Linked DNA regions of Homo sapiens: all the other regions are linked to region 1. The links come from fine-mapping of genetic effects on gene expression. A gene starts in region 1. Each other region holds a variant in brackets. All regions are shown on one strand. Distances are from middle to middle.

Region 1 (2,686 bases):
GAAGCAAGCAGAGCATGACTTAAGGAGTCTATCTATGACTGTATCTGTGGAACTGCCCTTAGCCACAATGAAAGACCAGCAAAACCAGCCTTCAGCATAACCCTCCTGCCTGGTAGGAGATGGGAAGGCCAGACTTCACCCCTCAAGATCGCCCTCCCACGCGCATTTTCCACCTCGCAGCTAAGAATTCAGTCCAGACTTCCGATCATGGCGCCACGCACGTCACCTTCTCCCCTCGCCGCCAGCAAAATCCCACCCACGTCGGCTGACCCCGCAGCGGGGTGTAAGGGCGGGAGGGATCCCGTCTCCTATACTGGTCGCTTGTACAAACCAGATCCAAAAAACGCACTACACAAATCCTTGGAAACTGCGGTACCAACGGGATCTTCTCAATTCCTTGAGTGCAAAATGATCCCACTCTCTATCCCGACACAACTCTAACTCCATTTTCCTTTCACGTGCCCTAAAAAGCCCTCAAGGCCCCCAGCCTTGGTGAATCCAGGCCCTCTCTCGGGGTGGGCACCGCGCTGTACGGACAGACGCGCGCACGCAGCGGGACGATTTATAGAATTAAAAGTCTTTTTTTTTTTTCTGGCTTCGCATCCTTGCAAATACTCAATATTCCTGTCAACTAAGAAGGCTAAGGGAATGGGCGGTTGAGGAAAGCAGGACGTCGATTACAGCGAACACATCAAAGGGGTGGTCTTTCCAATTCCGGCTTTTGTTTGAGTCAGAGGGGAGCCTGAGGAGGCCAAGGTCTCCGGTTCTGGGAAAGGCGGGTCCATCCGGATTCTTTGGGCTGCGGAGAGGGAGGTTCCAGCCCCGTGAAACAACAGAGGGCAGTTCTGCCCCTCGAGGCTTTCCTCCGAGAGTACTGAGACGGAGACGCCTCAGTCGGGAGAAATCCCGGAACTCGGAGGAGTCTGCTGAACGCCGAACAAAAGGATGTGGCCGTCGTCTCTTAAACAAATACGCGAATCCCAAGCCATGCACATTTGGAAGGCATGTGTATGTGTGTGAAGGAGAAAGGCCACCGCTGCCCACCGCAGCCCCACCCAGCCCTCGGCCATTCACCGGAGAGACGCGCTGCGGTGGGGCCTCGGAGCCCTCAGCCAGCCCCGAACGAGGGGCGGGGCCGGGCGGGGCCGTGAGCGCGCAGGCGCAGTGCGGGCTTCATCCCGCCGCCGGCGCCGCCGCCGCCGCCGCCCGCTCTGCACCACAGGCTAGAGACAGACAGGGCCGGGAAGAGCCGGAGACTGAGGAGGAGGCGGAGGCGGCGGCGGAGGCGGGGCGACTCCGGTGACCGGGAGCGCCGCAGACTGGCAGCTGCGGCGACTCCCCCCTTTGTGTCTGGTCTGCTCGGAGCCACTGGAAGTGCCTCCCGGAGGGACGCAGGGTGTCTCGCCGCCTCCCTGCCCACCCCCTTCCCCGGCTACCTTCATCCGCCCTCCCGCCGCCCCCCGCCCTCGGTCCGCGACGCCCGAGTTCCGTCAGGAGCCCAGAGCTGCGGGAGAACGAGGCGGCGGCGGCGGCGGCGGCGGCGGCGGCGGCGGCAGCAGCAGCGGCTTCCTCGGGGGGTTGTGATTCGCTCACAGGAGCCATTGACGGGAGAAGAGGAGGCTTTCTTGGTGGAATTTACCTCAGGCAAGATCGAGCCGCAGGAATAAAAAGCGAGGAAGGGAAGGGAGCGCCGCCGGGAGGACTAGAAGGGGCAGCCTCTCACACCCACTCCGCCTGCCGTCTCGGGGAGCCCGGACCGGGGCCGCGACCGCGACCCCTCCCCTCCCCCGCTCCTACCTCTCCTCAGCCTTCGCCAGGGCCTCCCCAACCCTCTCACGGTTGTTCTGCGAAGGCGTGGGGACTGTGAGCTTGTCCATGGAGGCAGGCACCTTTTTTGATCCAGTCAAGGAAGAGGATTTGTTGTTTTCGAAATCAGAGTGAAGGAAGCACCGAAGCGAAACTTAAGGAATCCTGCCTTCCCGGAGCCGCGGGCGATGCGACTAGGGCTGCCGGGCGCCGCCGCCGCCCGTCCGGCTTCGTCCTTCCCGGCAGTCGGGAACTAGTTCTGACCCTCGCCCCCCGACCCCGGATCGAATCCCCGCCCTCCGCACCCTGGATATGTTTTCTCCCAGACCTGGATATTTTTTTGATATCGTGAAACTACGAGGGAAATAATTTGGGGGATTTCTTCTTGGCTCCCTGCTTTCCCCACAGACATGCCTTCCGTTTGGAGGGCCGCGGCACCCCGTCCGAGGCGAAGGAACCCCCCCAGCCGCGAGGGAGAGAAATGAAGGGAATTTCTGCAGCGGCATGAAAGCTCTGCAGCTAGGTCCTCTCATCAGCCATTTGTCCTTTCAAACTGTATTGTGATACGGGCAGGATCAGTCCACGGGAGAGAAGACGAGCCTCCCGGCTGTTTCTCCGCCGGTCTACTTCCCATATTTCTTTTCTTTGCCCTCCTGATTCTTGGCTGGCCCAGGGATGACTTCCTCGCTGCAGCGGCCCTGGCGGGTGCCCTGGCTACCATGGACCATCCTGCTGGTCAGCACTGCGGCTGGTGAGTAGCTCCGGCCGGCACGTCCCGGCCACTGCCCCTGCGGGTGGCGAGGGAGGGAGCCCGCAGAGGCCGAGGCCTGTGCTTGCCCTTCGCCATGCGTCCCCCCGATCGCGGTGCAGCGGAGCTGCG
Region 2 (2,686 bases), 160 kb after region 1:
TAGTACCTAACTCAACTTTTATGTAAGAATCTTTTTACTTTCATTTAAACCTTTAGTTCATTGCTATCTAGTGTTTAGAAACATTATTAGCAGCAGGATGCAAATTAGGAATTTTTTTTTTTAGAGTACTCCAGGTTTTCATCTGAGTGAAATTTAATTAATTGCCAGTAATAGCTTATCTAACTGTATTTTGTTTGGTCTCTGATTGCTTTAGCAGTAAACATTTTCCTTATGCACCATCTGAGTGTTTGAGACAAGGTACACTTACGATGTTTACTGAGTTGAACCCAGAAGGAATTAGAAGCAATGAATTATTTGTAAACACTTTTTCCTTTTCTTTTTTTTTCATGCTCCCTTTCTCCCTCCTTCCTTCTTTCCTTCTTTCTTCCTTCCTTCCTCTTCTCTCACCTTATCTCCTTCCCTTCCTCCTCTTTTCTCTTCTTCCTTCCTTTCAATGAAAGAATACTCATTGGCCAGGTGCGGTGGCTCATGCCTATAATCCCAGCACTTTGTGAGGCCGAGGCTTGCGGATCACCTGAGGTCAGGAGTTCGAGACCAACCTGACCAATATGGTGAAACCCCGTTTCTACTAATAATATGCACCTGTAATCCCAGCTGCTCAGGAGGCTGAGATAGGAGAATTGCTTGAACCCGGGAGGCAGAGGTTGCAGTGAGCCAAGATCTTGCCGTTGCACCCCAGCCTGGGCAACAAGAGCAAAACTCTGTCTCAAAAAAATAAAAAAAGGCCTGGCGCGGTGGCTTACACCTGTAATCCCAGCACTTTGGGAGGCCAAGGCAGGCGGATCATGAGGTCAGAAGTTCGAGACCAGCCTGGCCAATATGGTGAAACCCCATGTCTACTAATAATACAAAAATTAGCCAGGCGTGGTGGCGAGCACCTGTAGTCCCAGCTACTCGGGAGGCTGGGGCAGAGGAATTGCTTGAACCCAGTAGGCGGAGGTTGCAGTGAGCTGAGATCACGCCATGGCTCTCCAGCCTGGGTAACAGAGCAAGACTCCGTCTCAAAAAAAGGGAAAGAATACTCATTTAAGTGAATGTTTGTTTGAGGCTTACTTGAAATAGCCAAATGAATTTATAGTTTTCCCTTCTTAGGGATTACATCGTTGTAGTATCATCTAAAAACTTTAACTATAAATCTGGCATTGCATTCTTCTAGGTGCTATACAGATGATTTGATCTGTGTGGCCACTGTCTTTTAGGAGTAACACCATTAAAAGCATAGAAAAAGGAACTAGCATTGGACAAATTTATGAAATAGAGCTATTTAATTTAAAAAGATTAATAATGGAGTTGAATTGTTTGGCTTTAAAGACATTAGGCATTACACATTAGTTTATATATATCAAGTGTGTGTATATATATATACACACACACACACATATATATGTATCGTGTGTGTGT[G/A]TATATATATATATAAATAAAATTTTTATTTATTTATTTATTTATTTATTTATTTTTTATTGATAATTCTTGGGTGTTTCTCACAGAGGGGGATTTGGCTGGGTCATAGGACAATAGTGGAGGGAAGGTCAGCAGATAAACAAGTGAACAAAGGTCTCTGGTTTTCCTAGGCAGAGGACCCTGCGGCCTTCCGCAGTGTTTGTGTCCCTGGGTACTTGAGATTAGGGAGTGGTGATGACTCTTAACGAGCATGCTGCCTTCAAGCATCTGTTTAACAAAGCACATCTTGCACCGCCCTTAATCCATTTAACCCTGAGTGGGACACAGCACATGTTTCAGAGAGCACAGGGTTGGGGGCAAGGTCACAGATCAACAGGATCCCAAGGCAGAAGAAGTTTTCTTAGTACAGAACAAAATGGAAAGTCTCCCATGTCTACTTCTTTCTACACAGACACGGCAACCATCTGATTTCTCAATCTTTTCCCCACCTTTCCCGCCTTTCTATTCCACAAAGCCGCCATTGTCATCCTGGCCCGTTCTCAATGAGCTGTTGGGCACACCTCCCAGACGGGGTGGTGGCCGGGCAGAGAGGCTCCTCACCTCCCGGACGGGGCGGCTGGCCAGGCGGGGGGCTGACCCCCCCACCTCCCTCCCGGACGGGGCGGCTGGCCGGGCGGGGGGCTGACCCCCCCACCTCCCTCCCGGACGGGGCGGCTGGCCGGGCGGGGGGCTGACCCCCCCCACCTCCTGGCCGGGCGGGTGGCTGACCCCCTGCCACCTCCCTCCCGGACGGGTCGGCTGGCCGGGCGGGTGGCTGACCCCCCCACCTCCCTCCCGGACAGGTCGGCTGGCCTGGCTGGGGGCTGACCCCCCCACCTCCCTCCCGGACGGGGCGGCTGGCCGGGCGGGGGGCTGACCCCCCCACCTCCCTCCCGGATGGGGCGGCTGGCCTGGCGGGGGGCTGACCCCCCCCACCTCCCTCCCGGACGGGGTGGCTGCCGGGCGGAGACACTCCTCACTTCCCAGACGGAGCGGCTGCTGGGCGGAGAGGCTCCTCACTTCTCAGACGGGGCGGCTGCCGGGCGGAGGGGCTCCTCACTTCTCAGACGGGGCGGTTGCCAGGCAGAGGGTCTCCTCACTTCTCAGACGGGGCGGCCGGGCAGAGACGCTCCTCACCTCCCAGACGGGGTCTCGGCTGGGCAGAGGCGCTCCTCACATCCCAGACGGGGCGGCGGGGCAGAGGCGCTCCCCACATCTCAGACGA
Region 3 (2,686 bases), 130 kb after region 1:
TCTTAGTGGAAAAATCTTTATTATTAAATTTTCAAATGTACTAATTCTGTGCTTTTTATGTACAACTTTTGGTTTTTCAGGTTTTTCCAAAATCTAACCTTTGTTACATTAAAATTTTAATATTTTATTTAATTGGTAATGTCCTTTAAATAACATTAATCTAAATTTTCAATACTGAAATTTAAACATGTCCACATATTTAAGAATTAAAAATTAGATTTTTAAAAAATAAAATTAGATTCCTTATCACTTCTCATTCCTAGTTGAATTCAAAATACATTTTTCAAATAAGTAATATGGTTCAGTTCTTTTGGGAATTATAACATTGGATATCTTAACTCATTTCCAGAGACAGTTTTATCTGTAATGCCATATTAATATTACATTTAATATTTAATTTTATTTTTTATACAGAAGACAAGATAATCTTTATTAACTCATATTTACTTGAATTACACAAGAATGTAAGAACACATTTAAATATTCAGTGTTTCTCATTTGGATGTGGCAAAACTTTGTTTCACGTTAGACTACGAATTTTTTTATTGTAACAAATATTTAAAGAAATACCAGTTTTTGGCTGGGCGCGGTGGCTTATGCCTATAATCCCAGCACTTTGGGAGGCCAAGGTGGGCAGATCACGAGGTCAGGAGTTCGAGACCAGCCTGACCAACATGGTGAAACCCTGTCTGTACTAAAAAATACAAAAATTAGCTGGGTGTGGTGGCGCGTGCCTGTAATCCCGCTACTTAGGAGTCTGAGGCAGAAAAATCACTTGAACCCAGGTGGCGGAGGTTGCAGTGAGCTGAGATCGTACATCTGTGACATGGATAATATTCAGTGATAAAAGGAAATGAACTGCTAAGCCACAAAAAGACATGGAGGAACCTAAAGTACATATTGCTAAGTGAAAGAAGGCAGTCTGAAAAGTCTGTATATTGTATCATTCCAACTATATGACTTTCTGGAAAGGAAAAACTATAGGCACATAAAATATCCTTGTATAGTCATGAATCTATAAATTATTTAGTTTTGTGTGTGTGTATGTGTATGTATTGAAAATAGTTTATCTTTTAGGTTTAGCAAATTCTAAAATGAGGTTTTTTTTGTTTTTTTTTGTTTATTTGTTTGTTTGCTTTTGAGACGGAGTCTTGCTTTCTCACCCAGGCTGGAGTGCAATGGCATGATCTTGGCTCACTACAATCTCTGCCTCCTGGGTTCAAGTGATTCTCCTGCCTGAGCCTCCTGAGTAGCTGGGATTACAGGCAAGCGCCACCATGCCCAGCTAATTTTTGTCTTTTTAGTAGAGCTGTGGTTTCACCATGTTGGTCAGGCTGGTCTCAAACCCCTGACCTTGTGATCCGTCTGCCTCAGCCTCCCAACGTGTTGGGATGACAGGAGTGAGCCACCGCACCTGGCTTTA[GT/G]TTTTTTTTTTTTTTTTTGATTGAAGTAAAATTCACATAACTTAGAATTAGTCATATTAAAATGTACCACTCAACACATTCATAGTGTTGTGCAACTATTACCTCTGTCTAGTTCCAAAACATTTTCATCACCCCACAAGGGAAACCCTGTATCTAATAAGCAGTCACTCCCTATTTCTTCCTCTCCCAGTCCCTGGCAACTACTAACCTGCTTTCTGTCTATGAATTTGGCCTATTCTGAGTATTTCATTTCAATGGAATCATAGAATATTCAACCTTTTGTAAATCCTTTGTAGGAATATACCACATTTTGTTTATCCATTCATCAGTTCATGAACATTTGTGTTGTTTCCACTTTCGGGTGTTGTAAATAGTGATGCTGTGAACATGCATGTAGAAGTTTTTGTTTGAACACTTGTTTTTGGTTCTTTCTGATATATGCCTAGGATTGGAATTGCTGGGTCTTATGGTAATTCCATGTTTAACTTTTTGAGGAACTCACAAACTGTTTTCTACTGTATACTTACCATTTCATATCCCACTTGCAATGTACAAGAGTTATAATTTATCCACATCCTTGCCAGCGCTTTTTATTTTCTTTTTTTTTAATTGTAGCCATGCCAATGTATGTGAAATAATATCTCACTGTGGTAAAATGAGTTTTATATGTAGCTTTTCTGCCTGTAACTTACTCTGTATGTTAAAAGGAGGCACAATGATCAATGTGTTAAAATCTATTAATATCTGAAAAATGGGCTGGGCACAGTGACTCACACCTGTAATCCCAGCACTTTGGGAGGCCAAAGTGGGCACATCAACTTGAGGCCAGGAGTTCAAGACCGATCTGGTTAACATGGTGAAACCCCATCTCTACTAAAAATACAAAAAATTATCCAGGTGTGGTGCTACAAACCTATAATCCCAGCAACTCAGGAGGCTGAGGCACAAGAATTGCTTGAGTCTGGGATGTGGAGTTTGCAGTGAGCTGAGATTGCACCACTGAGCTCCAGCCTGGGCGACAGAGCAAGACTCTCTTAAAAAAAAAAAAAGAAAGAAAGAAAAAAGAAAATATAATAAATGGTCTGCAAATTAAGAGTATTTCAGTGTTGTTTCAACATATCCTTCTATAGAAATATAGTTTAGACATTTTAATAAGCAACTTCTACTTAATTTGATTGAGACAAATAAATTCATTAAAACAGGAATGCCCATTAGAGGAACTCTTTGCCGTAGAGGCATCCTACTTTGCCATAGAAGCTTCT
Region 4 (2,686 bases), 140 kb after region 1:
ATAAACTGAGGCCAGGTGTGGTGGCTTATGCCTGTAATCCCAGCACTTTTGGAGGCTAAGGCAGGTGGATCACTTGAGGCCAAGAGTTCAGGACCAGCCTCGCCAACATGGCAAAACTCCCGTCTCTACTAAAAATACAAAAATTAGCCGGGTATGATGGCACACATCTGTAATTCCAGCTACTTGGGAGGCTGAGGCATGAGAATTGCTTGAACCCGGTAGGCGGAGGTTGCAGGGAGCCGAGATTGTACAGCCGTACTCCAGCCTGGGCGACAGAGCAAGACGCAATCTCAAAAAATAAAAAAAAATAAACTGACATTTATATTAGTTGTTAATCAGACTTCAGAGAGGACCACTGTATTACAGATAGAGCATTGCTGACTCACAAACTGGATTATTAATGGTCTGCAATGAAATAAGGATCTCACACCAGAATGTGAATCAACTAATTATACTGTTTGTTTCGCTGTCTCCTCCTTCTTTCTGTTTTTCTCTTCTTTATTTAATTTTTTGATAACAAGTTTTTTGATGAAAGAAGCAGTACTTTGATTGACATTCATTCTGATGCAACATTCTTTTCTCATCAGCAACTGGTAATAGTTTGTAGATAAGCACTTTGAGTGGCACCAATACATAAATGAATATATTTACAAAATCCTTTTGTTTTCTACTTATTAACCATAACAATATAATTTGTATTCATACTGGTGAATGATACACTTTTCTATCTTAATTTGATCAAAGAATTGTTTAAAAGGAAATAATCATTCATAATTTTTAATATTAGAGACATAAAAATTTATAATGTTTAAATTCCCCTTTCCATCCCTTCCTCTCCTCTCTACACACAGAAATGTCATACTAACTCTTTCAAGATTCTGAAATGTAGTAGTTCATTAGATCTTCATGGAATCCTAGCCTATTTGCAAATTCTTTATAAGGATGCTAATTTACTCTTCATGTTAAAGTGAGTTAATTCTAC[C/CT]TTTTTTTTTTTTCGCATTTTTTCCTCTATATAGGGATCTTTATGCAAGTATTTAAGTCTCCACACAAGTGACTGGGTAAGCTCTTGCCGTCTTGCTCATTCTGTTACTAGAGGACTGGCTTATCTTCACACAGAATTACCACGAGGAGGTAAGATAGTCAATAGATGAAATTGACACTCATGTGGGTTCAAAATTCACAACAGGAAATTTTAATTATATCTTCAAAGTAAAAGTATAATTTATATTATTGGAGATTTATTATTAGTCAGTTGTTTGAAAGATTCAGCATGAAATGCATTTGAAATGTAACAGAAAGAGCTTTCCCACGCAGCTGCCAAGATGGCAGAGGGGCAGTCCTGGTGCTTGATAGCTGAGTAAAACTCCTGGGCTACCTGGAGGCTATCATGACCCAGCAGAGAAAGTAGTGGTCATGTCCTGTGAGGACATCAACATTTCTGGCAGTTTCTACAGAAACAAGTTAAAGTATCTAGCCTTCCTCTGCAAGCGGACAAGCACCAACCCTTCCCAAGGACCCTACCATTTATGGGTCCCCAGCCACATCTTTTGGCAGACCACCTGCGGTAGGCTGCCCCACAAGACCAAGCAAGGCTAGGCTGCCCTAGATCACCTCAAGGTGTTTGATAGAATCCCCCTGCCATATGACAAGAAAAAGCAGATGGCGGTTTCTGCCACCCTCGAGGTTGTACGTCCGAAGCCTTGAAGAAAGTTTGCCTACCTGGGGCACTGGGCTCAGAAGGTTGACTGGAAATACCAGGCAATGACAGCCACCATGGGGGAGAAGAGGAAGGTCTATTATCAGAAGATCTGTTACCAGAAGAAAAACAGCTCATGAGGCTATAGGAAAAGGCTGAAAAGAACATAGAGAAGAACATTGACAAATACACGAAGGTCCTCAAGGCCCACAGACTCCTAGTCTGAGTCCAATAAAGACTGTTTATTCCTCATGCTTGTCCTGGCCTGCTCTTCCTCCATTGTTGCCATGGGGATGTAGGGGACCCAGGGGCAGCAGTCCAGGTGCTCTAGGCAGCCTGGGACTTACAAAGCTGGAGATAAGGAATGAATCTTAGTCACTGTCTTTCTATTAGGTTACTTTAAACAACTCTAAAAGTTGTGCAGACATAATTTGTCTATGATGTACTTGTTTGCAAGAGAGTTTCATAAAATCATTAGTAAAAACAACCTGCTACTTCAGTTGGAATATTGGCAGCCCGGGCGTGATTGATGGCTCATGCCTGTAACTCTGACACTTTGGGAGACCAAGGCAGGTGGATTGCTTGAGCTCGGGAGTTTGAGACCAGCCTGGGTAACATGGTGAAACCCTGTCTCTACAAAAAATATAAACATTAGCTGGACGTGGTGGCATGCACCTGTAGTCGCAGCTACTTGGGAGGCTGAGCTGGGAGGATTGTTTGAGCCTGGGAGGTGAAGGTTCTAGTTAGCTGAAATCACACCACTGTATTCCAGCCTGGCTGACAGCTAGACTGTCTCAGAAAAAAAAAAAAAGCAAATGTGAACTGGAACACTAATTGAAGAGTTTCCCTACCTTGTGAATGGGGAATCTGTTTGTATTTCCTACCTTGTCATATACTGTACTCTGCAGCTGTTAGGATGTGAGAAAATGCCTGTGGGGACAGTATGAGCCTGGTGTTGTACAGGGTATTTATGGATGTGTAGGCTAGGAA

What was found.
Region 2: its variant is fine-mapped to the expression of BMPR2 in whole blood (INTERVAL, PIP above 0.99).
Region 3: its variant is fine-mapped to the expression of BMPR2 in whole blood (INTERVAL, PIP above 0.99).
Region 4: its variant is fine-mapped to the expression of BMPR2 in whole blood (INTERVAL, PIP above 0.99).

What each region holds. Positions count from the first base shown.
Region 1 is chr2:202,374,994-202,377,679 of GRCh38, forward strand. BMPR2 (bone morphogenetic protein receptor type 2) reads left to right here and starts at 1,334. Exons shown (of 13, transcript NM_001204.7): 1 at 1,334-2,557. The coding sequence starts at 2,482. RefSeq lists enhancers at 182-341, 452-741, 1,896-2,679, 2,682-2,686 and silencers at 832-881, 1,032-1,521, 1,652-1,711, 1,782-1,841.
Region 2 is chr2:202,532,799-202,535,484 of GRCh38, forward strand. All of the region lies in intron 9 of BMPR2 (bone morphogenetic protein receptor type 2), which reads left to right. Among named protein-coding and RNA genes, the nearest start is that of FAM117B, 100 kb to the right of the region's middle. RefSeq lists an enhancer at 1,415-2,413. The variant G/A (reference allele first, on the strand shown) is at 1,423.
Region 3 is chr2:202,509,559-202,512,244 of GRCh38, forward strand. The region is part of intron 3 of BMPR2 (bone morphogenetic protein receptor type 2); the gene reads left to right. Among named protein-coding and RNA genes, the nearest start is that of FAM117B, 120 kb to the right of the region's middle. The variant GT/G (reference allele first, on the strand shown) is at 1,424.
Region 4 is chr2:202,519,071-202,521,756 of GRCh38, forward strand. It overlaps BMPR2 (bone morphogenetic protein receptor type 2), which reads left to right. Exons shown (of 13, transcript NM_001204.7): 7 at 1,017-1,131. It also overlaps the pseudogene RPL13AP12. Among named protein-coding and RNA genes, the nearest start is that of FAM117B, 110 kb to the right of the region's middle. The variant C/CT (reference allele first, on the strand shown) is at 983.